4 separate regions of the Homo sapiens genome follow, and all the other regions are linked to region 3. The links come from fine-mapping of genetic effects on gene expression. A gene starts in region 3. Each other region holds a variant in brackets. All regions are shown on one strand. Distances are from middle to middle.

Region 1 (8,163 bases), 110 kb after region 3:
TGTTACTGGTCAGTGAATTGATAGTTACAAAGACACTATCCAAAAAATCAAAGGTGGAAGAATACATGCCTGAGCATGAGTTGCCAGCGCTCCCCTTCTTCAAGTTGGGGAACTTCACAAGCTGGTCACAGACAGCTCACCCCAGTTCCTCTTTTTAATTCTTCCATCCTCTTCTAACTCCTACCACCCCTGGGCTTCTCTGGCTCTGTTCTCTCTGATTCACCACCTCCTCTTTCTGTGCCCGCCTTTCTGCCTTCCCGAGTGACTTTTGCTGAGTCCTTTATTAACCCTACACATGCTGGCTTCTCTGTGAGTTCAAACCTTGGGCCCTGCCTCCCTCAGCCCCACCTTTCCCTCCATATATTTAAACAAGATTATACTGTGGTAAAATATACAGAATATAAAATTTGCCATCTTAACCATTTAAAAGTGTACAGCTTAGTCGTGTTAAGCACATTTACATTGTTGTGCAATCGATATCTGGAACTCTTTTCATCTTGCAGAACTGAAACTCTGACCCATTAAACAACTCTCCATTCCCCCTCCTGCCGGCCTCTAGAAACCCCTGTTCTACTTTCTGTCTCTATGACTTTGACCATTCTAGATACCTCGTATCTAGAATAATATAATATTTATCCTGTGACTGGCTTATTTCACTCAGTGTAATGTCCTTGGTTTATCCATGTTGTAATGTGTTAGAATTCCCTTCCTTTTTGAGGCTGAATAATATCCCATATATATGGGACATACACACACATACATACATACACATACATATACATACCACATTTTGTTTATCCATTCATCAGTGGACATCTGTGTTGCTTTCATCTTTGGGCTACTGTGAATAATGCTGCTATAAACATGTGTATACAAGTATCTCTGAGACCCTGCTTTCAATTTCTTTGGATATGTACTCAGAAGTGGAATCCAGCAGGATCATATAGTAGTTCTATTTTAAAATTTTTGAGGAATCTCCATACTGTTTTCCATAGCAGCTATACTGTTTTACAATCCACCAACAATGTACAAGGGTTCTAGTTTCCCTATGTTCTTACCAACGCTTATCTATTTTTTTGAGACAGAGTCTTTCTCTGTCGCCCAGGCTAGAGTGCAGTGGCGTGATCTTGGCTCACTGCAATCTCCGCCTCCCGGAGACCAGCCAGGCTGGTCTCGAACTCCTGACCTCAGGTGATCCACTTGCCTTGGCCTCCTGAAGTGCTGGGATTACAGGTGTGAGCCGCTGCACCTGGCCTATTTTCTGTTTTTGTTATTTTTTTTAATAGTAGCCATCCTGATGAGTGTGAGGTGCTATCTCACTGTGGCTTTGATTAGCATTTCACTAGTGATTATGATGTTGAGCATCTTTTCATGTCCTTGTTGACTGTTTATCTTCTTTATTTTTATTTTTTTGAGATGGAGTCTCGCTCTGTCGCCAGGCTGGAGTGCAGTGGCGTGATCTCGGCTCACTGCAACCTCCACCTCCCTGGATCAAGCAATTCTCCTGCCTCAGCCTCCTAAGTAGTTGAGACTACAGGAGCACACCACCATGCCCAGCTAATTTTATTGTATTTTCAGTACAGACAGGGTTTCACCGTGTTGGCCAGGGTGGTCTCGATCTCTTGACCTTGTGATCTGCCCGCCTCAGGCTCCCAAAGTGCTGGGATTACAGGCGTGAGCCACTGCGCCCAGCTGACTGTTTATCTTCTTTGGAGATACGTTTAAGTCCTTTGCTCATTTTTAAATTTGGTTGTGTATTCTTTTCCATAAGCCTTTATAAAAGAGCTGTGTTTGGTTTTCTTGTTATCTCACCCCGCTTTGTGGAGGGAGGCATCACTCTTCCCCTGGCTGCAACTCCCTCCTTTCTGTGATCTGTGGACCTGTCCTTCATTCTGAGCCTTTGGTGGCATTAGTGCCACCCTAGTCATCCAGACTAGAAACTTCAGGCTTCTCTCGGACTCCCTGTATTTTATTTCTCATGGGCAGCCAGTTGCCAAATCTGTCAGTTCTGTCTCCACCAGGTTGGTTTACTCCATCCTCTCCCTTCTGGTGTTAGAGCCACAACCCCAGTTCCAGGATGCCCAGTGCAATCTCATGCTAATATGTAGTTTGGAGATGATTCATCTCTGGTGTCTAATGAAATCTCAGGGTGGAGTAGCATTGGCAAAGGGTGGCATAATGTTTGGGAGAACATATAATAATATAGTTTGTATTTGGAAGATGAAAACCTGTTTTATAACACATGGAATAAAGCTTGAGGAGCTGTGCAAGGGATAGATTATCTTTTGTGAACAGCAAATTATAATATTGATACTGATATGAGCTAACAAATGTTTATTGAGCACTTACTATATGCCAGGCACAAGTGTGTCACAGGTGTGCAATGACTCTCTGGAACCAGTGTTGCAGGGGTAAGAAGAATTTACCAAGACAATTATAGGTAAAGAAAAACAGATTTATTAGAAAAAGTAGGAAAATACATTGCAAGAGTGCAACAGGCAGATCAGCAGGAAGGGAGCTGACTGCCCAGAAACAAAGGCTTGCTGGGGATTTCATAGAATGGTGCTCGTGCTGTGTACTGAAGAGGGCTTCATGCAGTGCTGATAACTCCAAGGTCGCAGTGAGCAAACTTGCATTTTTCTATTAACTGAGGGTCTGGTGATAGCTGGGTGCAGGAAGATTGTGTTATTAATATTTGTGCAGGAAGGCTATGTGTCCTGGACCATGAAGAAAAGCAGAAGTATAGCTTAATCTGCCTTCTCTTTTTGCTTTCCCTTGGTCCTGTCAGCCCAACTCCCCCTTCCTAATTAGGACGCTGTAAAGCACTTAACACATATTAGCCTGTCTGGCCTCATGACAGCCTAGTGAGGCGGAGGATATTATTAGCCAGACAGAGAAGCTGAGGCCAGGTCCCAGGCCACACACCTGGTAAGTGGCAGGTGGGGTGTGCAAGCTAAGCTCTGGAAGTTTGGTTCTAGAGCTGTCCACTGCAGCTGGAGGAAGTGTGGGGCTTTTTCTATTCTCCAAGAGTGGGCATGAGTTAACTGGGCCTCAGGAAAGCAGGACTTTGGGACGAGCCTCAGGTTCCTCATCCCCTGCCACCCTCTGCCAGTCTTGCGAGCTGCAGTTCCCTCTCCGTGCCGCTGTGGGCCCTGTGGCCTGTGCACAATTCCTGCGGTGGGTCCTGGTGTCTTCTCTCCTCTGTCCCTTGTGTGTACCGCCACTCTGGAGTGCCTTCCAAGTGGTCAAACATCTCACATCTGTCATCTTTAAAGAGCCGCCTCAGTGCTGTTTCCTCCATGAGGCCCGATCTTCCCAGGTTGGCCGCCCCCTCCATCCTCCTCAGCGTGCTTATCACGGGGGCTGCAGGGGAAGCGACAACACTTACGATATCTTGCCTCAGTGTCTAGGCATGTTCCTGTTTCTTCCCAACTAGACTGTAGGTTACGGGAGACAAGATTTGTCTGTTGAGACCCAAGCACTTTTGTATTCCTCAGTGCCAAGCACAGAATGTGTTGTGAAACTGAGAAGCCAAATATTTCCCAGACCGAGGCTCAGGCAGTCCTAAAACCCACAGCCGTGGTTTAGACCCTGATTTTTCTGGGTCAGTCAGAGTTCCCATCTCCAGAACACACCTGGGAATCTTTAAACCTGGGAATCTTTCCTCTGTGAACAGTCCTGATTCAGAGACCCTGGCTGCCCTCCTCTCCACGTGTCCTGGTGAGGTTCTCTTTCCAGGGCTTTCCATTTTCTCCTCACAGCAGAAGTTTCGTTAAGCAAACAGGAAGTTGCTCATAGGCACCCTCACCCCAATGCAAGTGTGAGCAGTGGCCAGGAGACGGGTAAGGGAACTGGCCTGTGCCTGTGGGGAGGTGAGGCCAGCCAGAGACACTGGCTCGCTGGGCATCTTTCCATTGAGGCTGATTCCTGGAGTGACTCTGGAGAGGCAAGACTGGGATACTCTGGTTTTTATTTCAGTTTTTCCTGAGGTAACCAATAGTAATGGGTGGTCTTGGGAGGAGGCAAAAGAGACTTAAATCATGGCATCAGAAGAAAAAGTCAGTCTCTGACCTGGTATGGTGGCTCAAACCTGTAATTCCAGTGCTTTGGGGGACCGAGGTGGGAGGATCACTGGAGGCCAGGAGTTCGAGACCAGCCTGGACAACATAGCGCCACCACATCCTACTTATT[G/A]TAGAGATGGGGGTCTTACTATGTTGCCCAGGCTGGTCTCAAATTCCTGACCTCCAGTGATCTTCTGCCTTGGCCTCCCAAAGTGCTGGGAGGCATGAACCACTGCACTCAGCCCAGTATTTTTTTTTTCCCTCTTCCAGAAGCTTATGTGCTTTGAAGAAGGCCTCTTTCCCCATCTTAACAGAAAAATTCCTTGCTTTTAAATTTCCAGAGTGTCTAGTTATCTCTCTCTCCAGCTCATCCTGGTTTCACCCATGTCTAGTTCCCGTGTCAGGCACATTCAAATTCACTTGCCTTGGCCATGTCTCTTCCCTGACTCCTGTGTTCTACAACCATCTCCACGTGGTCTGTGGAGAAGATGGCTGAGTACCCTGAAGGTGTCCAGCTCCCTCAGGCCTGTCTTTCTCATTGGCATCATTCTGGGTCAGCTCCTTGTCCACGAGGCTTGGGTATAAACCTCCTCGATTGGTGGAAGTGGACTCCCAGGGGTGAGCCATGGCTTGGAGACAGTTTGGTTCATGGGCCCCAGCACACCAAACATAAAAGGCCTCACTTGTGGTTGGGATACATTTGGCAGGTCGGGGGTTTGACCTGGCTTTGGGCCTGTCGGCTCCCTGGCCGCCATCAGGGCTCAGTGAAGTGCTTGAGTTAGGAGAGAGAAGCCAGCTTTGGGAAGCGCTGCAGCCACAAAGCCCAAACTCCAGCTGCACAGGATGGTGAAATTCACCAAAGCAAAGTGAAAGTTGTGAAACTTCAAGTGACATAGTTCCCTTTTGAGAAAGTCTTCTAAACCTCTTTAAGAAAAACTTGAAATAGCCTGCTGTATATTTCTTCTTTGAATTTCAAATTTTTTTGACATGCATAAGTAACTTTCCTCCTGTTTTCTCAGACTTCTCTAACTCTCCATTTAAAAGTATCTGCTATTGGGAAAAGCATAAACAAGCCTCCAGTTTATTTATGATGTGGGGTTCAGAGGAGGCAGCTGGCCAGTAGTTGTCTTATTGCAATTCTCTGATTAATGAGGAAAGGCATCATCAAATGTCACAGCAATGGAATAGTTCATGTGATCTGGGAGAACCTACCTCTTCTCTAGTTCCAATATGGGACACAGGAGAATAGCAGGGCAATACAAATGCTGTATATTTGCAAAGTCTGCACACACTTTCAAGTGTGGATGAGTAAATCCTAAAAGGAACCAAAGACATATGAGTCTGAATTGCAATGTTTCTTCTTCCTGTGTGTAAATGGGGGTGTTTCCCCCACGAGTCTCTGTTGTGTTTGGATGGGTTTGAAGATCTGGGTTAGGAGAGCCCCTTTTCAGAGCTCCTCCTTAGACCTGAAAACCCAAGGTTTTGCTTTCAAATAAATGCCTCCAGAGGAGGGAGCGTGTTGATAGCATTTTAATGTAGGGCTTTGGCCTTTGACAAATGTGTGCTCAGAGGAGCTCAAGGCAAGAGATGCCAGTTTTGTGTGCAGGGCACCCATGTGTGCCTCCCTTTTCCAGGTACCGGCGGACGTCGAGAAATGTCAGGATCGGATGGAGTGTTTCAATGCTGACCTGAAAGCTGACATGGAGAGGTGGCAGAACAACAAGAGGCAGGACTTCCGGCAGCTACTCATGGGGATGGCTGACAAGAACATCCAGTATTATGAGAAGGTAATGAGTGTGCCCAACAAGACTGGTTTCTAATGGCCAGAGCCTTTCACATGGGCCTACCAGAAATCCACAAGCTGGGAATCCTGCTAGTCTCATCTCCTTCCCTTATTTTAGCTGCTTAGTCTTGGCTCCCGCTTCATGCCCTTGCCCAACCATGTGGCTGCAGTGCTGGGTTTGGCAGCAGAGGGGGTGCTCACAGGGGTTTCCCTTGCACATGCTGCTGGGGAAGCAGCCCATTCGTCTTCCATGCTTTCTGGGCCTGGCACTGGTTGCTTCCCAGAGCCAGTCAGACCTTCAGCACAGTGATGCTGCCACCGAATGGAGGCTTTGGGGTTACTTTACTCTGTGTTGGGGTTCTGTACACAGGGTCCCTTCAGTTTGGTTGTGCAGTGAACCCCTTTGGTCATCTGGTGAAGCCTATAGACCCCTCACCAAAATACTGTGCATTTGTTTTTTAAATAGACTTCAAAATATTGATTTTAAATACGTAAAATAAAGGGATGTAGGATTACAAAGGAAAGCAATTCTATTAAAAACTTTTACTCATGGATCCCCTTGACCAGGTTAAGCAGCGCACGCACATGCGCGTGCACACACACACACACCCACACACCCCACTACCACCACCACACCCCACACACACACTACACACACACCACACCCCCCCACACTACACACACACCACACATACACCACACACCCCCCATACTACATGCACACCACACACCCCCTACACATACACCCCACATACACACCCCACACACAACCCCCCCACACACGACACCCACACACCACACCCACATACCTCACACAACCCTCACACACAACCCCCACACACACCATACACACACCACACACACATAGAGATGACTCTTATCAGGCTACAGCCCAGTCCCCTCAATCAAGGTTTGCTTGATTCGTATGTCCAGCAAACCAGTGCGAGGCCAGGTGCAGTGGCTCACGCCCGTAATCCCAGCACTTGAAGAGTCCGAGGTGGGAGGATCACTTGAGCCCAGCTCAAGACCAGCCTAGGCAATGTAGTGGGACTGTCGTTACAAAAGATACAAAATGAGCCAGGTGTGGTGGCGTGTGCCTATAGTTCCAGCTACTCGGGAGGCTGTGGCAGGAGGATGGCTTGAGCCAGGAGTTCAAGGCTACAGTGAGTCATGATTGTGCACTACTGTACTCCAACCTGGGTAACAGAGTTTTTTGATCCTGTCACGCCATATATATATATATATATATATATATATATATATATATGTATGTATGTATGCACACACACACACACGTATACACACATATATATACACACATATACATACATACATACACACATGAGTGAGTGTGTGTGTGTGTGTATGTATGTATGTATGTATATATATATATATATTGCGATAGGGTCAAAAACTCTGTTACCCAGGTTGGAGTGCAGTAGTGCAGTCTGTTACCCAGAGTTCCTTTCTTCTGTAACTCCCACACCTTCCCTCTGCTGTTCAGCGGCCTTCCTACTACTACAAAACCAACTATGTCAAATGTCTCTGTTGCTCCCTTTGGTAATTAATCCCAGCGTTCCTAAAGTCCTGGTCCCAGGAGGACCCAACCCTGGTCTTAAGTACGTGTTTATCTGTCTTCCCACTATATCACAGGCAGGGCCACTGTCTTGGGGCCTGGTATTGCTTCTATACATATTTAACAAATGCTTTTTGTGCACTTGCTGTGTGCAAGGGGCAGTGTGTACCAAATTGATAAACAGCAGGATTCCTGCCCTGTGGAGGGTATGTGTTCATCAAAGGAGCCCACAGCTTCAGAGTGAGATAAGGAAAAGAACGGGAAACTGGGGGAGAAAATACTAGGGGGCATAATGCAGACTAAGGGTGGGAGGGGCAAGTGGAGTGGTCAGGAAAGGCCAGTCTGAGGAAATGACATTTCATCCGAGTCTCAGAGACAGAGGCTTGGAAAACATATATTCCAGGTATAGGAGACAACATACGCAAAGTCCCTGGGGCAGGAAAGAGTTTGGTACATTTGAGGACCAAATAGAAAACTGGTATGGCCTTGGTTTATCATGGCTGACATACAAAGTCCATTGCAGATCTGAAGTGATGGCCTAGGGAGAGAGCAGGACCTGGAATGCCACAGACCCCAGATCATCTTCCGTATATAAGGTGGGCTTCAGAGTTTAGCTTCCTCTCTAACCTCAGAGTCACCAAGGAGGAATCAGGAAGCAATTTCACCACTCTTCTTTCTGGCTTGACCTAGGATGCCTCTCTCCTCCTCCCTCCTCAGAACTTCTCCCACCTCCTGGGAATTCC
Region 2 (8,163 bases), 120 kb after region 3:
GTGAGGAGGCTGGCCCAGAAGGAAGGGGACGTTAGGTGGTGAAGCAGGCTCCCCTGGGCCTCTGAGGGCCAGCAGTCCCAACCATTTGCCTCTTCGTTTTGACCAAGCACAAAAGAGATATTCCCTAGAAGTGTCACACGGAGGCTTCTGTGCCAAAGACTGCCTTGTAGAGGTCTCATCACCTCACACTTCTTGACTTCACAAAATTGTGGCCCTGAGATCAGTACTCCTCTCTTAAGTATTTATTATTATTATTATTTACTTTACCTCAAGCAGACAGACATAGGTTTTGAGGCTTGAATACATGGCAGTGGAATACAAGGCCCTCCCTAGCAGCCGCCCCAGGCCTGGAAAGTGGGAGATTTCATTCGCCCGGGTTAAAAATCCAGAGGAAGACAGAAGAGAGGAGTCCTAGGAACTGAGCAGATTTTAGAGACGCAAATGATGTTTAAGAGAGCCTTGTGATTTGTAGCAAGCATGGGCACTGCTTTTTCTTACTAATGTGGTAGATCTACACGAACATTCTAGGCTGTTCTGCTCAGAGCGAGGAACCACTGCTCCTCAATGGGGAGGGAACATACCACCCAGCCAGGCTTAGCATTGGGTTTTATCCTTTAATAAAAGTTTTATAATGAATCCTGTTCACCTTAAAGTGTGATTATGGAGATGATTGGCTCCATATTCCACCACGTCATTCCTTCAACTCACCAGACACCTTTCTTTAGTTGAAATAAACCAGCATGACCTGGAGATCATGGTGACTGTAAGCTAAGTCTGTTTTCATGCCAGATTTCAGCCCCACCCAGAGTGTGCTCTAGATGTTGTTGATTTGAATGGTTTTCCCAGTTCCCACTCCACATGGGGAAGTTGAATGAATGCACACCTGCTGCTCACTTCTTGTGAGGCTGCCTTTTGTGATCAAATAACAGGAAGTTCTGCTTTAGAGGAGGGCACGATGACCATGTGGCAGTCTGCAAGTGGAATTTTGGGATGGCAGCCCGAGGAACATCCAGAGTTACTGTGTGACTTGGTCCTGCCATCGTTAGCTTTGAAATCACAGGCATTGGGCTCTGTTTTGACACCATTCATTGGACTGCGGGACAGTCATTCTTTACGTTCTCTCTTGAGCTGGTGAGAGAGGAGGAAGAGGGAAGTCAAGAGCAACCTCCAAGGCCTATGTCAGCCTCTTCTCCTTGGGTCTTGGGGTGGGTTAGAACTGGGTTCCAGTCTGGCCAGATGGGTTGCTGGCTGCACTGAGGGTGATTCTTCTCAGAAGATGGGCTGCCTGTGGTCAGGACAGGGCATACCAGTCTGGACTCCACCTTCCCAGACACCTACTTTAAGGACCTGTGGAAACTGGGTGATCCAATTATAGGGCTGGGGCAACCCTGCTTTGGCCACCCTCATTTACAAACTTAGGTTGGGAGCTTGGGTTTCCTGTCTCACTTCCAAAAGCCTTCAAGATGGCAGCAGATGGACACACCCTCTCATTTCTTGTGTCTTGTCTGTCAGATGGCAGGAGGCCTGTATCAGTAAATTTGAGGAAAATGTTCTCTCCTGGGCCAGCCTCACAGCTTGCGTTGGGTGTGTTGGAATTGTTCTCTTCGGCCTTGTTCTGCCTTGTGATCTTTTCAATTCAGTGAATAAACCAGGAATCCATTTTTTCACCAACCCACCCTGTAGATTGTCAGCTTTTTGTTTGAGAGATGCCTGGTCTCACAGTTACATGTATCAGAGTGTGTGTAAGTTGTCTGTGTTAGAAAGGTTGGGGTGGGGGCTTTGTTGCAGGGGATTAGACTGTTCTTTCTTCATCATAATTTGAGATACATCCTGAGTATGACTGTCTAACCCTTTCTGTGTGGCAGAAAAATATGTTTTCCAGGTAGTTTTTACTACTACAGAGAGTCTGTAAATAAGTGCTTTAAAAAAATAACAAACCAATAAGATATTTGTCTCCTATATAAACATTCTGTGTATTTAGCACTTGAAAATCAACAAATCCAGAATTTAAAAAAATGCCACAGACTTTTCAAAGCCCAACTCTACTTTTTTGAGAATTTGTCCGTACCTACTAATATGCCTTATTCTTCTTCACCTAGTGTTTTAAAAGTCCTGGGTAGAAAGAGTTTTAGAAATGTAATCAGTTGTTCAGCTTCAATAATATAGAGATCTAACATAGTCAGTCCTCAGGCCCCCTAAAGAAACAAGCAAGAAAGTGAGGGCCATCACTAGGGTTGGCTTTGGGGAGGGGAAAACTAAGGACTGCTTTTGCCAAATGATATTTTTGATAATGTAAGGAAACACAGGGACCACAAAACCTTTTTTTTTTTTTTAAGTGTGAAAGATTAGTGCCTTTTGGCATACTTTTGATTTTAGAGGATATAGTATCGGCATTGACAAATCACGTAGAAACAAAGAATGCTATAGATGACAACAGTATTAAATGTTACTCCTGATTCTGCAGAACAGCTTTTGAAGATACTGGGGGGTATCTTCAAGCCTCAGAGCAGCTTGTTTCAGATAGAAATTCTCTATGGGTTGAAATGCCAAAAACAGAAAACATGATGTTGACTCATGTAATTTAGTCCATTTTAGCAGAGCCTTTAGTGTTAACACCAGTGGCGAGGAGCATTGCATATTCTCTGTCAGCAGCAGCACTCCCACACCAGGTGGTTCTGGGCTCTCTGTAGGCTGGTCCTAGTAGGTGACACCCAGCAACACCCCTGTTGGACAGGATTGATTGTTCGCAGTCTTAGACCAACACTTCAGTCAGAAATGTTACTGGGAGGAGGAAAGGAAAATCACTTTTTTTCCTCCATGTGGAAATGAGGAGAGAGGAAAGTGGATTGCAAACCAAAATGTGAGTCAGTGTGATGAAGCAGTGGCTCTGTCATCTCGGCCTTTATCCAATAACAAACCAGCATCTCTTAAAGGCGCTTTTGGCCTAGACACCCCTGAAGTTTGGATGAAGTCTGGTGGATTCCCTGTCTGTTGTATTTCTGTGTGCCTGTTCCCTTCATTGCTGTGAGTTGGGAGTGCATTGAGAGATGATGTCCATCTGATATATTCCTGTGAAATAAACTGCCAGCAAACTTTCTAACTTGTATTTTAACTGTTAAAGAAGAGATTAAAAACTTCGGCTTTGGACATGTCCACATTATGGACTGTCATCTTATTTTTAAAAGTCATTCTTTACGTTTAAAATTTTAAAATAAAAACCTTCTGAGGTATTGATGTAGTCCACCGTGTAAATGTTACCTTCTCTCCATGCTGCCATTATGCCAAAACAAAAGCTGTGATAAAAAAAGTGCTTGAGAGAGTGTGTTGATAAGAAAGTGATTTATTTACAGATGGAAGTCTTTGTTTCATGAAGCTACCAAACTTTAAAAAGAATGTCACCCTTTTTTTTGTTTGTTATGGAAACCAGAGATTGTAAAATGGAAAAAGAATCGTTTTTTTGTTGACTTTTTGATGCTGGCACGAGGTTTTTGTCCACTTTTTTCATATATCTGTGTATAAAAAAATTGTTGTTTACTATGGAATTAGTATTACATTTTGAGGTAAACAAAAGAATTTGTATTGCTTGATAAATATTAGCTTGTAAATTTAAAGTTTCTTTACTTCAATTAACTTAAAGGACCAATAAACCCATAAAAGATGCTTTCTTTATCTGGAGTCATGTCCTCATTTGTACCTTTTTGTAAGGCAGAAAAACATGTGTGCCTATTTTTCTGTTTTCTTATTTTCTCTTTACAAGTTTTCAGTTTGCCTGTAAGAATCAAGACATACAGAGCGACAGGAAAAAATATATATAATTGAACTATTTTTATTCTTCTTCACTTCTTTATAGGCCCAGTTTACCCTCAATTTACCCTCTTCTACATCTTCCACATCTGCACCAATCTGGGGAGATGAAGAAACTTCCTAGTGTAGTAGCCATCATGACTGGCAGGCAGGCCGACAGCCAGCTGAGGTATTTACTACATGAAAGATTTCCTGTGTTATCCCATAGCAAAGCACAACATTATATTCTGCATCAGGGCCAGTTAAGTTGACCTGATGATGGTAATGCATTGAACTTGAGTATATTTAAAATAGTGCTCAACTTGACTTACTTTAAGACTGCAGTCATACAAAATAAGGCAGCAAGCTGAATAAGACGTGGATCATGGATCAAATCTCAGCTTTTCCACTTACTAGCTATGTGGCTTTAGGCAAGTCACACTTGGCTGAATATTTAGTATTACGATCTTTGAGATGAAAACAAGACTTCCACATGGGGTTGTCGATAGGACTAGCAATATGGTATGCAAAGCACTTAAATGTCAGGCAGCTTCTCACTGTGATAGCCCCTTTCTAAAGACTTCCTAATTTAAATATTAAGGCTATTAGGATATTATCCTTAAGGATATGGCCAATTTAAATATTAAGGATAACAATCCTTCATGTATGCTTTGCCAGTTTTTTTGTTTAACAGGATATTCTTTTTTTTTTCTTTTGCTTTGTCACCCAGGCTGAAGTGCAGTGGCATGATCTCAGCTCACTGCAACCTCTGCCTTCCAGGCCCAAGCAGTCCCCCCGCCTCAGTCTCCCGAGTAGCTGGTGCTACAGGTACGTGCCACCATGCCCGGCTAATTTTTTTATTTTTCGCAGAGACGGGGTTTTGCCATGTTGCCCAGGCTGGTATTGAACTCCTGAGCTCAAGCAATTCGCTTGCCTTGGCCTCCCAAAGTGCTGGGATTACAGGCATAAGCCACTGTGCCTGGCCCTGTTTTCTTTTTAACAAGGTGATGGAAATAAAATACTGAAGGACGGTGTCAGATTGAAGGCCTGAAGAATGGGGAGGAATAAATTCCAAAAGCCATGGCAAGAAGTGATAAAGGGAGGTGAAAATAGCCGATTTAAGAGATTCTTGGGGGGAGGAGAATGGACCGGAGATGACTGGAAGATTGCCAGCCTGGGATTTGGAGGCGATGCCATTAGCTAAAATTAGGAGAGAAAGACAGAATATGGAGGCTGGGCGTGGTGGCTCATTCCTGTAATCCCAGCACTTTGGGAGGCCACAGCAGGAGATCACTTGAGCCCAAGAGTTAAAGACCAGCCTGAGCAACGTAGACCCCGTCTCTACAAAAATTAAAAATCAAAAAAGATGGAATGAGCTTAGGTGGTGGGGTGTGAGAAGGAGAACTTGGTTTCGCTTTAGGTTTGAGGAAATCCAGGTGGAGATGTTGACTTGGCTGTTGGAAATGAAGTTCTGGAGTCCATGGGGGTGGACTAGATTGCATGGGAAGAGAACCAAGGACAGGACCTTGGAGGCCTCAAGAATTAAGAATACAGGCAGGGTGCAATGGCTCATACCTGTAATCCCAGCACTTTGGGAGGTCGAGGCAGGTGGATCATTTGAAGCCAGGAGTTCGAGACCGGCCTAGCCAACATGGCGAAACCTGTCTCTATCAAAAATACAAAAATTAGCCAGACATGGTGGTGCGTGCTTGTATTCCCAGCTGCTCAGGTGGCTGAGGCAGGAGAATTGCTTGAACTCTGGAGGTGGAGGTTGCAGTGAGCTGCGATTGCACCACTGCACTACAGCCTGGGCAAAAGAGTAAGACTGTCAAAAAAAAAAAAAAAGGATGCAGGGAGACAAGGAGGACTCAGGGAAAATTCTTGAGAAAAAATCGGGCCCCATAGGTGAGAATGGTGATTCTTAAATGAGGGCTTGTGAGACACCAATTGTTGAGCCCCAGTCCTAGAGTTTGACTTGGGTGAGATCCCAGAATTTTCATTTCTAACCGGTTCCCAGGTGATGCTGCTGCTGCTGGCCCAAGA[AC/A]CCCTGGGTTAGAACATCTGTTAGAAGAAATGGTGACCCTGGAAAAGCTGACAAGGTTTGAAACTCCTACCCTGGTGACAGCTGGAGTTGAAAAGGAGCCAATACTTGGGCTTTGAGAGCTCAGCTCAGGTTAAAAAACACAAGTTTATATAGCACGGTCAATGTGGACAAGGAATGACATTTCTCTAAACAGTAAGAGGCTTTTCAGGAGTAGGAACGATTAGATTCATTCAGGCTGAGGAGCTGGTCAAGAGGCTGGACCAGAAGGTAAGGAGTTGGGGAATGAGCATATTGATGAGTAAGGGTGGAGAGGTTGAACATGGTCTTGACCTCATCTTTCCCATCCTATCTGCTCTGCTCATGCTGCCAGACTCTTGGGGTTGGAGGGGGGCGCTACCTTTTTCCCAGTGGCCTGAGCCCCAAATCTGAGTCATTCTGGCCTCCATCTACCTCACCCTCTACCATCCATCCATTAACCAACTCCTGTAGCCTCTAACTCCCAAATATTTTTCCATATCCATCTACTTTTCTCCATGCTTGTAGCTTCCTACCCTACGTCTGCTATTATTTTTTTACTTTAATTTTTTTTTTTAAGAGGCAATCTTGCTCTCTCACCCAGGCAGGGGTATAGTGGCCCAGTCATAGCTCACTGCAGCCTTGAACTCGGGCTCAAGCGATCCTGTCGTTTTAGCCTCCTGAGTAGCTGGGATTATAGGTGCACACCACCATACCCAGGTAATTTTAATTTTTTTTGTAGAGATAGTGGTCTCGCTATTTGCTCAGGCTAGTGCTGGATTCCTGGCCTCAAGTGATCTTCCTAGCTTGGCCTCCCAGAGTGCTGGGATTATAGGCCTGAGCCACCAAGGCTGGCCAGTCAGTCTGCCATTATCCTTCACCTGGTTTACTGCAAGGGCTTCACAGCTCATCTCCTTTCTTCAAGCTTGCTCACTCCTTCCACCAATTCATTGTCCTCAGTGTTGCCAGGGAGCTGTTTCTAAGATGCAAATTTAAGCACTCTGTGTTCCTGCTTAACACCTTCCAACAGCTATCCCCATTTACTCTGAAGAGAAACATCTTTTTCTTTTGAAAGGATATTTTATGTTATTCCTCCTTACCACCCCAGTCTCATCTTACTGTCCTCCGTAATACTTGTCCTTCCGTCTGCTGCCTTCACACTGAATTCCTAAACCTTTGATATATTTTCACCTTCAGGCCTTCCAGCAAGTTGTTCCTTCTGCCTGGAATGTCCCCCAACATCTGGCCTTAGTAACTGCTACTTACCCTTCCAGCCTTGTCATAGAAGTCATTTCTGGGATGCCCTTCCTGCTCTCCCAAATCTGGATTCCGTGCTCCCTTATATTAGTGAGGTTGGAGAGGTTGAACGTGATCTTGAACTTCTTGAACTCATCTTTCCCATCCCATCTGCTCTGCTCATGTTGCCTGACTCAGTGCAAGGGTGCTGGCTCCTTCCCAGTGGAAGGAGACATCCCTATCTGCTGTTCTGTCTGCTTCACCTGATAGACAGTACACTGTGCTAGGGCAGACACAGTCACGTGCTATTCTTTCTGTATCTCAGCACCTAGCATGGGGCCTGGACCTTATTAGATGTGTCATAGAGTTTTGTTCATTCCCTGCAAGAGGATTAGAGATACAAACTCTCAGAGCCCAAATACCTTGAATGTATTCTGCAGCCGTGTATTTTATCCTGTATAAGAACATCAAGTCTGTAGTCACAGACAGAATCTGACCTGGGAAGGAACGATTCACACACTCATACAATGAATGTTGATTTTATTAGGTGAGTCTGCTTTTATAAATCCAAGTAAACAAGGTTATAAAAATGACTACCTCAAATAAAATAGCTCTTAATGTACCTCCTCTTCCTTCACACCACCCACTTTGGGAAGCACTGTTGACTGGAAGTACTCAATTGAACATCCCATTGAAGAAAGCCTTGTGACATTTGCTTCTTAAAAGCAACAGTAGTAACAAAACTACCCAGAAGACAAGGGCCTGAGCTCCATCCCCCTCCTGAGTGTTTGTAGGTAAGGAAGACTCAGGAAAGAAAGCTGACTTTTTTCAAGGTTTTATTTTAATTTAAAAGACATTGTTCGTGCAAAACTGTTGGTAGTTCTTACAAAACATCCCTTCCACATTCCCCTCAGGCTGTGATAATGCACGCTTTGAGTTCTCCCATGGGACTTTCAGCACAGCACCCAGGTGACTAGTTAGCTATACTTTGGAGCCCTCAAGACAGTCCCTTGAAGAAAAGGGGCAGGCTCGCTGTAGCTGGAGTCTGAAGCCCCTCACAGGGCCTGGGACTGCTGTGTGCAGCC
Region 3 (8,163 bases):
ACATACATCTACTATCTTCCTCAGAGCTCAACCCTAGAAATCCAAGCTTCCCTCCATAAGTTCCAACAAACACCACAGCCTTCTGCTCTGATGGAGAAACGTTACACGTTTCCTCCTTACCACCATGCTGCTTTTAAAACTTTTAGTAGCCTGTAATCCCAGCACTTTGGGAGGCCAAGGCAGGCAGATCACTTGAGGTCATGAGTTTGAGACCAGCCTGGACAACATGGTGAAACCCTGTCTCTACTAAAAATACAAAAATTAGCCGGGCATGGTGGCACACACCTGTAATCCCAGCTACTGTGGAGGCTGAGGCAGGAGAATCGCTTGAACCTGGGAGGCGGAGGTTGCAGTGAGCTGAGATTGCGCCACTGCACTCCAGCCTGGGCGACAGAGCAAGGCCCTGTCTCCAAGAAAAAAAAAAAAAAAAAACAAAACCTTTTAGTAGAAGCAAAGTCACATGCTCTGGGACACTTATATTATTTCAGTGACAATTTCCCACCACAAGGAACACTGAAATACCACAGGAAATGGTGAATATGAATGGGCAGGGCTGGGCTAAATTTCATCGTGGAAACTTTCTACCAAAATACTTTCCATACAAATTCACTTTCTTTAGTTTTGATGACTACCCACTGGATATTGTGGCCAGCTGCTATCGACCAACCAGGAAACTGGAAAATAAATAAATAAACTGTAATCAACTATTTCATATGGCCTTTTAGGAACTCTGGGTCTGGGTCCTTTTTTTGGTGGGAGCATAGAAAAGTGGTACTCCAATCTAAACTGAGCAAATGGAGGACTTTGGAGGTCAATACACACACACACACACACACACACATATACACACATATATATGTACACACACATATATATGTATATATATATATATTTTTTTTTATTTTGAGACAAGGTCTCCTTCTGTTGCCCAGGCTGAAGTACAGTGGTGCAATCTCAGCTCATTGCACCCTCAACCTCCCAGGCTCAAGCAATCCTTCCACCTCAGCCTCTTGGGTAGCTGGGACTACAGGTATGTGCCACCATGCCGGACTAATTTTTACATTTTTTATAGAGATGGGGCTCTCACTATGTTGCCCAAGCTGGTCTTGAACTTATGGGCTCAAGTGATCCTCCCACCTTGGCCTCCCAAAGTGCTGGGATTACAGGTGTGAGGCACCCTACCTGGTGTGTATGTGTGTGTATATATATGTATATTCAACCAGACCCTACTCAGAATAGTAAAGCATATTTAATTACAAAAACTCTTTATTATTTCATAAGAATAGTAGAGAAAATCTGACAGAAAGGGAAAGGAAGGTAGGTAATTAACATTTAGGGAGCACCTATTTTATGCCAGCACTTTGCTAGGACTATGACATAAAGAATGCTATATAACTCTCACAACCATCTCATAAGGTATTATTACCTGCTCTCCATTCTCCTCCTTTTTAGGTTAGGAACAGGTTCACTGAGGTTAGTAACTTGCTCATGGTCACCCACTTGTAGTGACAAAGCCGAATTCAAATGTGGTTCTTTTTTCACTTTCCCCTGGTGTACTAAAGAGAAAGCTTGTATAGAGTCTTAATCCATACGGATGTCCATTATATTTAAGGCAGCCTGGTTGTTAAAATAAGTAGCACCATTCAATAAGAAAAACCGATGTTATACATCTATAGATGTATATACTCATTTCTAGAAATACTCATTTCTAGTTATATTGTGCTATTCATTTTCATGCTAATTCAGAAGAACAGATAATAGGGTCTGTAGTAGTTGTAAGCAGCCCTTGAATGTGAAAGTGTTAACAATTTTAATCCAACTCCAAGAGGACCAGAACTTGGCATTCCTTAGATGCAGCATTTAAAATTGTTCCCAGTGCCCTTTGAATGCTACTTTTCCCAGCCAAGGCAGGCTTATGTGGAGGAGATAAAGATGATAGCTTGAGGACTAAGGGTCCAACCCTATATAAATTACATTGGGGGAAATAGGGGAAGGTCTTTGAAGCTCAGAGTCTCTGACTGATATTTTGGGTAGATTTCAACCCTCTGCATTCTCTTCTATTTGTTTCTAGAGAAAACTGTGGTAGAGGCCTTAGTGAATCCCAGAGTCAACATCTGTCATCACCTTTTAGCAGGTAAGGCTAGGCAAACCTTTGAGTTTGGAATGGGTAGGGAAAATGTGGTCCCTCACGATGAGCCTCCCTACCCATTACTTTGCTAGAGGGACTGAAAACCCTTTAAAGACTTGGCCTTGGAAACAGAAGATCTAGGGACAGGTAAGGTGGAAAAAGGAGGTGAACCTACACCCCAAAGGGCTGGAAGTAACACCTTGACTATTTGCACCACGCCAGCAAATAAAGCTGAGAATCAGCTCAGCCCAAGGCCTGGAAAGGAAGCACAAATGCATGAAGAATAACTTGAACCTCATGGTTCTTTCAAAAGTCTCTTCGGCCAAAGTGTGAGTTGAAGAGTCGCATATCATTTGAGACTCTCTACTCATGCTCGCTGTTCTGAGGTTTGACTTTACACAAATCCAGCTCAGCTGCAGAAGCAAGCCACAATGGGGACCTCAGAGTGAGCCTGAAGACTCCCCACACCGCCTCTTTGAAGTCCCTTCCAGGTTCCCCACCCGATGTCCTCTAGCTCATTTGAGCCTTGTCGCCCTTTATGCTATTCTTCCGATATGGGTCGTAATTCCGTCTATCTAGGGTTCTTCCTGCGCGTGCCTTAGAGGCCAGAAGACCCTGACTCACGTGCGTGTCCTCAAAGCCCCCAGCCCCAAGCGTGGCTGCTGGTGGGCGCATCAGTAAACGCGGGTGGAACGGAACAGGCTCCTCCAACCTCTTTTCCACCTCTGATTTCCGTTAGACATTTGCTCCGCACGGCGGCCTCCGCGAGGCAACGTTGGACACTGGGAGGACAGCCGCAGAGGCCCAGGGCGCACTTCCTGCCGGGCGGGGGCGGGGCCGCGCCTCCTCCCTCCCTCCCTCCGTCCTTCCTTCCCCACGTGCCCCTTCCCCGCCCTCCCCGCCCCCTCCCGGGCGGCCGCGGCGCCTCGGGGGCGGGGCCGGAGCGGGTGGGCGGTGTGGCTGTGTGGGCTGGGCGCCGCGGCCGTGCTGCCAGCGGACCCGCGGCGGGCTCGGGCGCGGAGCGGGGGCGCGCGGCGCGGAGCGGAGCGTCTGAGCGCCGGCAGAGACCAGCCGGCGGGTGGCGGCGGCCCCCAGCACGGCCGGTGCAAGGCCTCGGGTTAAGCGGCGGCCGAGCGGGGCTCGGCCCGGGGTGCTCGGGGAGCTCGCCGCGGCGGGCAGCAGGAGGAAGCGGCGGCGGCGCGTCCCGAGCGGTGCGCGCCATGGCGGGCGGGCCCCCCAAGGCCCTGCCGTCCACGGGGCCCCACTCCCTGCGCGACATGCCGCACCCGCTGGCCGGCTCCAGCAGCGAGGAGGCCGTGGGTGGTGACAGCACGCCCAGCCCGGACCTGCTGATGGCCCGCAGCTTCGGTGACAAGGTGGGGCGCCTGGGGCCGGGGAGTGGGAGGCTTATTTCGCTCCCCGTGGGGGGGATGATGGATCCGGAGCCTTCGTGGGCCTGGGGCCGCGCCCACCCTGCCGCCCCTTCCCGGGGGACGGGCGTGTCCTGGCCCCGGAGCCCTCGGCGAAGCGTCTCCTCTGCCGCCTCCGCGGGGTCGCAGCCGCAGAGGGACAGGCTTCGCTGCCTGTGACTGGTCGCAAGCACCGGTGACAGCTGGTGGGGAGGGGTCCAGCCTGCGTGTTGGAGCGGGAGGCGTGTGTTCAGGGCAGGGCGCCTGTGTCCTCGGATGGGGTTCCGAGTTCCTCCAGGTGCATCCCTGCAGGCTGAGCTGCTGCATAACTTGTAGCTCCTCCAGTTTCCGAGACTGCACAGAAAGCAGGAGTTCCTGGCTTTCCGTGCTGGGACCGGGCAGCCCTGGGCTTACAGCGAGAGTCTTCTTCCCCCTAGTCAGTCATGTGGGGAGTGATCTTTGTTTAGGTTTGCTGTTTGTCCTGAGGAGTCACCTGACTCAGACCCCAGCCGGCGGCGGGAGGAGAGCCTCGTTGTGGTTTTCTGTCTGGGGCTCCATTCACCTCCGACGGCCTACCACTCTGTTTAGGTTTGGCAGAGGCTGGTTTTGTGGTTGATGGAAAGAAAGCTCGCCCTTTGACCTTCTTTGTACGGAGGGAGGCTCCAGATTTTCTTAGAGCAGCACAACCCTCCTGCTGCTTGGAGAGACAGCAGAGTCCAGGCAGGGGTAAGGGACGACCTCCTCCCTACCCCCATGGCCATTTCAGCTGTGAAGGAGACTTGAGCAGTGATTGTATCCCCGCTCCTGCCGTCACTTAGTCACTAACTGCAGAAATTAGAATTGTTCTCAGGTCTTGTGATCAAGATTTTCTCTCCCTAGTAAAATACTAAATGAATTCCCCCTTGTCCCAATATTAATGGGAGCAGGGGACCTAACTTTCTTCTCCCGTTAGAGGGGACACCATGTGGTACAGTGAAAAAGGAGTATGAGAAAATATAACCTGCCCTCCTTGCAGTCAGAAGGTCACTGAGCACTTAAAATCACTAGAGAGTGCGACTTGATGTACCTTCTGCAGAGGGTTTGTGAAAGCAGGGAGTGAAGTTCCAAAGCATTAGGAACAGGAAAATTAAAAAAGCTAATGGAGGCCAGGTGCAGTGGCTCACACCTGTAATACCAGCACTTTGGGAGGCTGAAGTGGGATGATTGCTCTGAACCAAAAGTTTGAGACCAGCCTGGGCAACATATCGAGACCCCGTTTCCACATACGCACACAGCATGGTGGCATGCACCTGTAATCCAGGCTACTCAGGAGGCTGAGGCGGGAGGATTGCTTGAGCCTGGGAGTTCAAGGCTGCAGTGAGCTATGATTGCACCGCTGTACTCCAGCCTGGGCAAGAGAGTGAGACCCTGTCTCCAAAAAATGTTGAATAACTGAATAAATTTGCTTTCTTATCGACAAAAATTGGTCTTAAAATAGTGTAGGAACTGGGGGTTAAACCTCATTTCCTTCTCAGTTCTGTGTGGGACACTGAATTAATTATCTATTGCTGTGTAGCAAATTACCCCAAAACTTATCACCTGGAAATAGTGTCTGTGGGACAATCTGAGTGGTTCTGAATTAGGCCTTTCTTGAGGTTGCAGTCAAGTTGTTGGCTTGGGCTGCAGTCATCTGAAGGCTGGATTAGGGGAGGATCCACTTCTAAGCTCACTCACATGGCTGTTGGCAGGTCTTAGTTACTCTCCATAGGGCTGTTTGATGTGGCAACTGGTTTTTCCCCCCAGAGCAAGTGATCCAAGAGAGCTCAAGACTCTAGCCAGTCTTGTATAACTTATCTTGGAAATGACATGCCTCTGCTGTATTCTGTTGGTCACACAGATTGACACTGGTACAATGTGGGGAGAGGGTGTGAATATCAGGGTGTGTATACCAAGAGGTGGGGATCATTGGGCCATCTTGGAGACTGGCTACTACAGATAGCCATTTAAAATATTTACCTAACGATTCACTCATGGATGATACCTGACTCAGAAGTATGAGCATTTTACTAATAAGCACTTGGAAGACAAATTCCCCGTACCACCAAGATCTGGTTAGTGGTGAAGAAGTCAGTCTCAAGTCTAATTACCGATGGCTTCCTTTAAAGGGTCTGTTCTGTGTAGGAGGGAGAGTCTTGAAGGCATTATTAATTATTGAATATATATGTATTTTTTTGAGCAGAGACTTACTCTGTCACCCAGGCTGGAGCGCAGTGGCCTGATCCTGACTCACTGCAACCTCCACCTCCCTGGTCAAAGTGATTCTCGTGTCTCAGCTCCCGTATAGCTGTGATTACAGGCGTGTGCTACCTTGACCAGGTAATTTGTGTATTTTTAGTAGAGACGAGGTTTCGCCATGTTGGCCAGGCTAGTCTCGAACTCCTGGCTTCAAGTGATCTGCCCTCCTCGGCCTCCCAAAGTGCTGGGATTACAAACATGAGCCACTGTGCCTGGCCTAATTATTGAATATTTAATGAATCTCCTAACAGCTGTGGGGAGCATCTAAATGACACCATTCTCAAGGGCCTGATTTATAGTAAGCCACTTTTCCTTAGAGGCTAAGCATTGTAATTTCTTTCTCTGACTAGGAGTAACATTTTCCTTGAATCTTGGCATACACGTATGGTCTCATAACTCTGAAGAAATTTCTGTAGAGAGAAGCTAGCAAGCCACAGAGGTGAGTCAGAGCCAGAAGAAGGAAGCCTTCCCTGTGGCTGGCTTTCTCCTACCTCAGCAGCATGAGGGTCATCAGAGGGGTGTTAGGACAGTTCAGTGCTATGGTCTGTCTTTGAAAAGAAGCCAGTTTTGTCTTGTTAGATACTGGGGTTGTGATCCTGGATGACAGGGATTCTGCGTCAGTTCTGGGCCAGGGGAATGAAGGTTTGACAGGCTGGTCATAGTACAGGGTTATTATGCAAAGGGGAATTGCTTTCTGAGGGCCCAAGATGGTGCGATGAACAGGGTAGCCTGGTGTCTTGGTCCAGCTGACGCTTGTGAATGAACTCTGTAGTGCTTGGGTAGAAGAGAAAGACTGAATATGATGGACTCTCCACCAATTTCTCAAATTGTTCAAATCATGGTGTGATGCCTCCCTTCATAGGCTCCCAAAGGAGGAATCCTTTCTATCTACCAGAGGTTGCCAGGACTAATTCTTTTGATGCCTGCTAAACTCACTGGGCCTTTTTTTTTTTTTTTTTTTTTTGAGATGGAGTCTCACTCTGTTGCCTAGGCTAGAGTGCAGTGGTGCAGTCTCACTGCAACCTTTCCCTCCTGGGTTCATGTGATTCTCCTGCCTCAGCCTCCTGAGTAGCTGAGATTACAGGTGACTGCCACCACACCTGGCTAATTTTTTTATTTTTAGTAGTGATGGGGTTTTACCATGTTAGCCTGGCTGGTCTCGAACTTCTGACCTCAGATGATCTGCCCACCTCTGCCTCCCAAAGTTCTGGGATTACAGGCGTGAGCCTCACTGGACCTTATATGGCTATCTCCATCTAAAATGTAAATACATCACTTAGCCTTACTCTCCTTTTTTAACTTTCATCTGTAAATTGCTCCAGGCTGCTTCTCCTCTGACTCAGCCTCTAACTTCTGTACCCCTCCCAAAACTTAATACTGGATTCTTAAGCCCCATTGTGTGGCTAACACCTCCTCCCACATCCTCAATCTCTTCTCTGAACTCTTCATCTACTTCCTGCCTCCTTAGGTCACTTAGACGTCCTCTGAAGTCTTCAAAATAGAGAAGGCTTTTCCTCCATCACCTTTTACAAACCAGGCTCTGCTCCTTTGAGGCTCCTGTCATTCTTTTTGTTCATTTGATACATATTTGAGGGCCTACTATGAGCCAGGCACTGTTCTAGGAACTTGAATAAATTAGCTGAAAACCCTGCCCTCACTGGATACATTTCAGCAAGTTTGTACTGTATTACACCATAAATGCCATGGAAGGAGGAAAAAGGAGAACTGGCCGCGAGGAAGAGGATTTGGCAGGCCTTGTTGAGTACTTGATATTTGAGCAGACTGGAAGGAGGTGAGGGAGTTAGTGGGTGAGTATCTGAAGAAGACTGTCCGGGGAGGGACTGCCTGAAGCAGAGGCCGGAAGGCACAGGGCTGGTGTGTCGGGGAGCAGCCTAGAGGCCAGTGTGGCCAGGTAGAGTGAGCATTGGAGAGTTAAAGGCTGGGGGCAGAGAAGGGAGGGGTCAGATTATATTGAATGTGGCCGGTCACCCTGAGGACTTTGGCCTTTATTGCTAGGGCCATGGGGTGGGAAGTTAACATGGGCAGGGGACATTTCAGGGTCTTGAGCAGGAGGGGGGCATAGTTTGATTATATATTGAAAAGGATCACATAGGCTGTTCAATTGAGACTACCTTGAGCATTCCCCTGAATTAGTTAGGATTCTTTATTAGTTAAAAAGACATGAGCTGAATGCAAACTAGATAGAGGAAAATAAAAATCTACTGGCTCACGTTGCTGAAAAGGCCCAGGTATTTTGGCTTCAGGGATGGCTGGAGCAAGGTATTCCAGTGATGTCGGGGATCTGTCACTTTCCATCTCTTGGCTCTGCTTTCTTCTGTGTCAGCCTTGTTC
Region 4 (8,163 bases), 160 kb after region 3:
AGCCAAGCCCAGGCCTAGACTTTTTTGGGGATTTGGGTCCAGATGACAAATAACTGCTCATTCTCTTCCAATGTAGACAGTTCAATCCTCAACTTGTCCACAATTCGTCCTTTTCCAAAACCCCAAGCTCCTAGCACTCTGTTTTGGTAAATTCAGTCCTCAACCCTTTCTAGCTGTGGCCTCAGTTTTGCTGTAGAGGTAGAGGATAGGGCTCAATCTCTCACTCTTTCACTGCCTCTGAGTACTGAGATACTGGAACACCTATTCTGTGCTGAGAAAAGGGATCAGACACTGGAGCCCCTCAGTTCAGGAGTCTGTCACTGACCCCAACTGGAGCCAACAATCTCTTCCATATCCAACATGAACTCTTGGCCAGGTGCGGTGGCTCACACCTGTAATCCCAGCACTTTGGGAGGCCACGGTGGGAGGATCACTTGAGCCCAGGGGTTTGAGATTAGCCTGGGCAATACAGTGAGACCCTGTCTCTACAAGAACTAAAAACTAAAAAAAAAAAAAACCCCAATGCATGATGTCTTGTCTCAGAAGAGGAAGAGCTACCATTTCTGTGAGGGGTAAGGGACTGCTGGTCAGATAGGGCAACTGCGTGCCACCGTGGCTGCCAGGAAAAGAATAGTGGTGTCTCTCTCTCTCTCTCTGTGTGTGTGTGTATGTGTGTGTGTGTAGGAGTGACAAAAATGTTGAATCTAGGGTTGAAAAAGAGAGTACAGGTGGTTCTCAGGGCCTTAGGATTCCTGCACGTTGAGGAGCGGGACTCCAGAGCCCTGTAGATTGGGGACTGGGAGGCAATTGGTGCTAAAAGTAGGCCCAGGGTGTAGGTGCACAGACTAGAATCTGCATGGTCACATTGTGAGGAGGTCGTTTGTTCCATTGCTTCCTGAGGAGCTGCCCAGGGTGAAACACATCTGAGGCTCAGGGAAAGCACGGGCTGTGTGAACTGCGAATGACCTTTGCATTCCTATCCTGCAGAGTTTGTTGCAAGTGCTCTGTGGGGCTAATGGGTACTTTCTCCACAGGCCAGTCGCCCAGCATTTCATAGTCTTAAAATCATCTGATTAGAGTTGACTATGCCTATTAAAGACTTTTATATGCATGTTTCAGCTCATGGGAACAAAGCTGATAGCAAGGCTGAGATTAGGAAGTGGGAAGCTGGTTATTCACCCCTTTTGCCCCATAAGTCACCCTATGTGCACATAGGGGCTCCCACCCCTTCCTGCCCTACAACAACAGTATGTTTTTTGTTCTACTACCTCACCTACTTAACTTGTTCTGCAAAAATAAAAATAAATTGAGTGACAATCAACCTATACAACATTAAGGGCTAATACAATTTTAAAGTTTAAAACAATCGACTGGGCACGGTGGCTCACGTCTGTAATTCTAGCACTTTGGGAGGCCGAGGCGGGTGGATCACTTGAGGTCAGGAGCTCGAGACCAGCCTCACCAACATGGTGAAACCTCGTCTCTACTAAGAATACAAAAATTAGCCGGGCATGGTGGTGGGTACCTATAATTCCAGCTACTCAGGAGGCTGAGGCAGGAGAATTGCTTGAACTTGAAAGGCAGAGGTTGTAGTGAGCCAAGATCATGCCACTGCACTCCAGCCTGGGTGACAAAACAGACTTTGTCTCAAATAAATAAATAAATAAATAAATATATATTTAAAAAATCATTAAGAATAAGACAAATATTCCCAGCTTTAAGAAATGGGTGCCTAGGTTGGGCTCCCCAAAAAGCAGACTTAAGAGAAAGATTCGTGGTCAGAAGGTTTATTGTGTAGTGCTTGAAACCACCTTTGCAAGAATTATAACTGAGGAAATTATGACAGTGAGAGAGATCAGATCTAACCGACTCCATCCTGCTTCTAACCTTTAATCCGTCCTTGTTCATTCCTGTGTGTAGGTCGAACTAGCCTTGGGAAGGAATTCAGTTTATGGTTTGACTCTGAAACAAAATTGATAATAGCCCTTTCCTGAAAAAGATCCCTGTCTTGCCTGGGGACCAGACTGCCTTTGTAGGACTAACAAATTAGCTACAAATTAGAAATTAAGGTTTAGAGGTCATGAGGCCTCTGCCTGCAAGAGTCTGAACCTCTCCCAGTTGTTCCTCGGGATAACATCATTATTGTAAAACCTAAGATCAGGGCTTGAGATATTTTGCGGACCCTGCACTCAATGATCAGCTGACACCACCCAGACTGGTAATCTGGCTCAGCTAGTTCTGTGATCCCACCCAGGAGCAGAAGACACAGCAAGAAAACTTCATTTTGACCCCCATGAGTCCATCTTCAACCTGACCAATCACAGCTCCTTACTTCCTGAGCCCCTACCCACCAAATTATCTTTAAAAACCTCGATCTCCAAATGTGAATGCTCAGGGAGACTGATTTGAGTAATAATAAAACACCAGTCTCCTGCACAGCTGACTCTGCGTGAACTACTCTCTATCCATTGCAATTCCCCTGTCTCGATAAATCAGCTCTGTCTAGGCAGCGGGCAAGGTGAACTCACTGGGCTATAACATGCTCTGGGGATCAACACCCAGGAGGATGAGGGAAGTGGCATCTGTCAGAGGGAGGTGTTGACTTGTGATGTAGTTGCAACAAAGGCCTCCACGAATTTGGGAGCTGACAGGATCCTTCAATGTTGCCCCACCTTGAGGCCAGGGGGCCACGCCTTTATACTCCCCACCATACAACATTGATCAGCCATTAGGTTCAGGCTGCCCTGGAGAGAGAGGGGCATGATTTTGGGCTAGGCAGCTCTCTTCTGCTGAATCCAGTTCCCAGAGAGTGACTCAGCTGAGATCTTTCAGCCACTGACAGTGAGAGAATGAATGCATCAGCTGTGAAAGGGGGGTCCGGATAGTGCTTCACAGCATCCAGTACAAAGGCCAAGTGACAAGAAGAGATAAACCAAATAGGAAGAAATCATTTTAACAGTGAGAATGTGAAACAAATGTTCAAAATTGTTAGTATTATGTGAAAAATTAAAGAATAGATCGCTCTTAGCCTATCAGACTCAGGATTTTTTAAAAAAGAGATTGGCCATGGATAGAGAAAATGATAACCTTTATGCTTTTAGATCCTGGGGTGGTAAAATGTGATTAATTTAAGGTTTAAAATACTAGTAGTCAATGCC[A/G]TGAGAATAAATTTCATCACTCGGAAAGAGTGTAGGTAAAGAACCAAATAATGTCATTAGCTCAGAGGAAAATTACTATGAGATACATAGTACAAGGGTATTTGTAGAAAGCTCAATACCATTGTGCCAGGAAGCTTTTCCCCATGGGAATTGGCAGAATTTACTTTACAGCCTGGTTCTAGAGTCCACAGGATGGGCAAGGACATTTGGGTGAAAATTCCTAAATACAGAGTAAGGAAATTGGCTGTTTAGACTACTAGGGAGATGCTTGGAAGGCATAATAGTAGTGATGTATTTAATTGTGAGGTAAGGTATGCAGTGACCAATTATCTTTGATATCCATCAATGACAAAAGCTGGAGAATATCTCTGACTTTTGGGGTTAAACTATAACTTATGCCAGAGAGAGAACTAATATTAAACTACCCAAATCCCAAATCCCATGAAGGAGAACAGTAGAGGATATTGTGCCTATTGGAGAAAGGCTATTCCATCTATAGCAGAGAACTGTATAGTTGGGCCTCTGTATCCATGGGTTCCACATCCATGGATTCAATCAACCACCCATTGAATAAAAATATCCAGGAAAAATAACCATATAACCACAAAAATAATACAAATAAAAAACAATGCAGCACAACAACTATTCACGTAGCATTTACATTGTATTAGGTATTAAGTAATCTGGAGATGATTTAAAGCATACTGGAGGATTATACACAAATACTACATCATTTTATGTCAGGTGCTTGAGCATTCACAGATTCTGATATCTGTGGGATTCTGGGAACCAATCCTGCACCTATATGGAGGGATGACTGTACACTATTCAGAAAGCAGTTTCTCCACCATCCTTGTTGGGTCCTGGTGAATATGAAGCAAGTGAGCAAGAGACATCAGATGATCATGCAACCAGAACTATCCATTATGAGAAGTTTTCTTTCAGACTACCACATCATAAGTTTGGGTGGGCCCAGCAGCAATCTATAAGATGGAAGTGGTACACCAGTGGGATAGGGCACATGTAGGGTCAGAAGGAACAAGCAAGCCACAAAAGCAGGTGGTCCAGATCTCATGTTGTCCAGTGCTTCTCCTTCAGCACCAGCCACATGGGGAACCTCTTATGACAGCTGATGGAGGGGAAGAAAAGGTTGAAACTTGGTTCACAAATGGGTCAACTCGATATCTCAGTACAAACCAGAGGACAGTAGCTGCATCACAACCCTTACTTAGGTATTGATATGCTTTGGATGTTTGTCTCTTGCAAATCTCATATTGAAATGTGATTCACAGTATTGGAGGTAGGGCCTGGTGGGAGCTGATTGGATTATGGGAGTGGATCCCTCATGAGTAAGGTTTGGCACTATCCCCTTGGTGATAAGTGATATTTTGCCCAGTTAATCCACATGATGTCTGGTTGTTTGAAAGAGTTTGGGACCTCTGCCGTCTTTCTCTCTTGCTCCTTCTTGCCATGTGATATGCTGGCTCCCCCTTGACCTTCCACCATGATTGTAAGCTTCCTGAGGCGTCACCAGAAGCAGATGCCAGCACCATGCTTTCTGTACTGTGAGCCAATTAAACCTCTTTTCTTTATAAATTACCCAGTCTTAGATATTTCTTTATATCAACACAAAAACAGACGGACATAGGTGTGGTACTAAAAGCTAGCAGTGAGAAATCCTACCAATGGGGAAATCTCTAGCAGGTATGTCTGGTCATGTAAGTTCCCCAAGGTATGAATATACATGGTTTCACGAGTAGTAGCAAATGGTCTGCTGGGGGGTTTGGAAGGAGATAGATTGAAAGATCAGGGTTAAGGAGCTCTGAGGAGGAGGCATGTGGGCAAACTTATGGGAGGTGTGAAGATCTTTGTTTCACATGTGCATTAGCCCACTGGAGTATCTGTTATAGAAGAGGCATTATCCAACAAATACAGACCAAGTGACTCAGCCAGTTGACATCATTTGGCTTCTGTTATTAGATACCTGGGTGTTGGAATAATGAGTGCATTTATAGAGTAGCCACAGTGGTAGGGATGGAGACTCTGCATGGACCTGACAGCTGATCTGGCTGTTGCTTCTGCTCAAAGTCCAGCCTATCAGCCCCAGAGACCAGTACTGAAACCCTGATATAGCCTCATCCCCTAGGAAACTAAGCTGCCATTTGGTGGCTATTTGATTGCATTGGATCCCTTGCACAATAGAAGGAGTAGATACCATCCTGACCAGGCTCAACTTATATTCTGTGTATCGGGTTGTCTTTCCTGTTGTGGGGCCTCAGCCAGTACCATGATCTGAGACCGAACGGCGTGTTGGATAACAGCAAAATATCAGAGCTAAGCATTCTACTTCACAGCAAAAAAGTATATAGTGGACACCTGGCCATGGGACCCACTTCTTCTATCTCAAACTTTGTCACCCAGAAGCCACCCTATTAGAGTGGCAGAATGGCCTTTATGAAACCAGTCAAGATCTCAATTTAGAATTAACACCCTATAAGGATGGGGTACCATCCCCCAGGAGACCCTAAATCAATAACCATTGCATGGTGCTGTTTTCTGTCTCCAAAAGGTAGACTACATGAGCCTGGAAACTGGGGGATGGAAGTAGGCCTGGCCCCACTTCTCATCTCTCTCAGTGATCTTGGGAAATTTGTGCTTTCCATTCCTGCAGCTTTAGCACTAAAAGGGGCTGCCTCCACCAGGGGAGACAGTAAGAATCCCACTGCAATTTAAGCTATGGCTGTCGCTGGGGCGCTTCCAGTTCCATGTGTCAAAAGAACAGCAGTAAGAAAGGGAATGCAGGGGCAATTAAGGTCACTGCTACTCAAGGGGGACAGGAAGAATATGTTTGGACCCCACCATGAAGCACATCTTGGTGTTCCCACACCCAGTGGTAACGGTAGTTGGAGAATTGGAGCAGCCACAGTCTGAGAAAGGCATAGTAAATCAAGGCTCAGACACTTAGGGATGAATGGTTTGGGTCACCTCACCAGGTAAGCCGCCTAGACCAGCAGAGGTACTAGCCAAAAATGAGGGGAAGACAGGATTGTAAATGGTGGAGGGGATGATGAATATCATTTATGGTGTCAGGATAGCTGCGGCAGTAGAGGCTATAGTTCATCCTACTAATCTTTCTCTTGTAAGTTTCCCAGCAAACAAGCCAACCAGAATTACGGGAAAGTCGTTCCCAAAGGGATATCAGAGAAATATGAGAGGTGAGCTGCAGTGGAAATTGTGGTATTCACTCATGTGCCCCCTTCAGGGCCAATGTACCTAATTCTCAACTTCTGGTAATATCATACTGCCAGCCCACAGCTGAGAATATGAGAATCTCCCTGGACTGGAAACCTGTAGGAAATATTGAGAAAACTTTGAATTTCCATAAACTGTAGGATAGGAGTTTAAACCAGTGTTCTCTAGAACTTGGGAGAGAACCCACCTGATGACTGGATTATACCAGTGCAGAATTGATCTGCCTGGGAAGTTTGAAAATGGAGATTGACTTCAAATTTCTGGGCTTGAAAAGAGAATATGAGTATTCAAAGCAAAAGTTTGTAACACTTGAGCATATCTGATGAAAACTATATTGTCCTGGTGAGGGCTGCAAGGTTGAAAGGGCAGTGATCCCAGGTCTGGATAATGTAGCCAATATTTCTTTGGTGATTTCTGAGGTCAGAATTGTCTCCTGGGAGAAAAACGAGATACAGACTATCAAGAAGCTGATACAAATCAGGAATATGAAGTTCCTTTCAAGTGCTGCTGGGCCTTATGTTCATACTAACGCTCTGTTCTCTGCTAATGATTTTATAGCAGCTGCTTCCTAGCTATTCCTCTTCGAAAACACTGTGGGTGGGAGTAAATGGCATGCCTGAAGTGTCTATGGAAAATAGCCTGTTAATGGGGATATTATCTGTCCCTGAGCTCAGAGGTGCAAAAGAGACAGAGAAGACCTTTCTTTGCATCTCCTGGGGTGACAGGGAGGCATCAAAGTCATATCTTATAGGCTTTATCCTCTTGCATCAAAATAACAAGATCTCATACTCAGGAGAGAACTCGTTTGGAATGCTGTGTCCTTGAGGTTTCTTGGAGTGGTCATTTCTGACTGTGTGACGCTTTTGACAACTATGGATGGAGGGTGTATCTGTCTTGTGACCAGCCGCCCTCTTGATGTCCACATTGGAGTATTTCCAGAAGAAAACCTGGGCAATGACACCTTCCTTCCAGGCCAGTTTTGAACCCAGCTTATGCTCTGTAAAGGACTTTATGACATTGCTCTTATTCCCATTCTTCACACAGAAATATGCTTGATGTTTGAACCAGTCAGGTATTTGAAATATGTTTGAGATGTGACTTAATGTGACCAGAAAAGTCTAAATGTATTTAGGAAAGAGGCCACAGAATTGCTAAGTCTAATTTTGTCATGCAAATCATGTGCACACAAAACTTTTTAATGCAATATTTGAGAAAACACTACCCTTAGGTAACTGGCATGACTTCATCTGCTGTGGTATGTACAAATTCTTTCATTCGTTCCCTCATTTAATGAGGACTTGTTGGACACCTGCTTGTGAAAGACACCTGTGATGTCAGGGAGACAGTCCTCAAGACCACGCTAGCTTCTGACACTTGCAATTTGGGAGGATTCCCAAGACCACCCTCAGGTTTGATAATTCACTTGGTGGACTCACAGAACACACACTGAAAGCTGTTATACTCACAGCTATGGTTTATTACAGCACAAGGATACAGATTAAAATCAGCCAAGGGAAGAGATGCATAGGGCAGAGTCAGGAAGTTTCCTAGAGCAGAAGCTGTAGTGTCCTCTCTCAGTGGACTTGTGGATAACACTTTCCCGGCAACAATGTATGACAACATGCACAGAGTATTGTCAACCAGGGATGCTCACATGAGCCTTGGTGTCCAGAGTTTTTTGTTTTTTCTTTTGAGACAGGGTCTCATTCTGTTGCCCAGGCTGGAGTGCAGTGACACTATCGTGGCTTACTAT

Alleles and levels. Positions count from the first base shown, and alleles are read on the strand shown. Sizes are in standard deviations (SD) of each study's normalised expression. Not every link is listed here.
In carriers of allele G in region 1, the expression in neutrophils of the gene that starts at base 3,107 in region 3 tends to be lower than with A alone (moderate effect, 0.58 SD a copy in BLUEPRINT).

What was found.
Region 1: its variant is fine-mapped to the expression of SNX30 in neutrophils (BLUEPRINT, PIP 0.95). The same link has a PIP of 0.9 or more in monocytes.
Region 2: its variant is fine-mapped to the expression of SNX30 in whole blood (INTERVAL, PIP above 0.99).
Region 4: its variant is fine-mapped to the expression of SNX30 in whole blood (TOPMed, PIP 0.98).

What each region holds. Positions count from the first base shown.
Region 1 is chr9:112,858,552-112,866,714 of GRCh38, forward strand. It overlaps SNX30 (sorting nexin family member 30), which reads left to right. Exons shown (of 9, transcript NM_001012994.2): 8 at 5,696-5,848. Among named protein-coding and RNA genes, the nearest start is that of SLC46A2, 28 kb to the right of the region's middle. The variant G/A (reference allele first, on the strand shown) is at 4,192.
Region 2 is chr9:112,871,319-112,879,481 of GRCh38, forward strand. It overlaps SNX30 (sorting nexin family member 30), which reads left to right. Exons shown (of 9, transcript NM_001012994.2): 9 at 1-3,669. It overlaps SLC46A2 (solute carrier family 46 member 2), which reads right to left. Exons shown (of 4, transcript NM_033051.4): 4 at 7,602-8,163. Among named protein-coding and RNA genes, the nearest start is that of SLC46A2, 15 kb to the right of the region's middle. The variant AC/A (reference allele first, on the strand shown) is at 5,827.
Region 3 is chr9:112,747,654-112,755,816 of GRCh38, forward strand. It overlaps SNX30 (sorting nexin family member 30), which reads left to right and starts at 3,107. Exons shown (of 9, transcript NM_001012994.2): 1 at 3,107-3,504. The coding sequence starts at 3,349. SNX30-DT (SNX30 divergent transcript) reads right to left here and starts at 2,912. Exons shown (of 1, transcript NR_186503.1): 1 at 1,231-2,912. RefSeq lists a silencer at 2,865-3,684 and enhancers at 2,954-3,875, 3,876-4,795, 6,926-7,540, 6,999-7,088, 7,541-8,154.
Region 4 is chr9:112,904,314-112,912,476 of GRCh38, forward strand. No RefSeq gene overlaps it. Among named protein-coding and RNA genes, the nearest start is that of SLC46A2, 18 kb to the left of the region's middle. The variant A/G (reference allele first, on the strand shown) is at 3,159.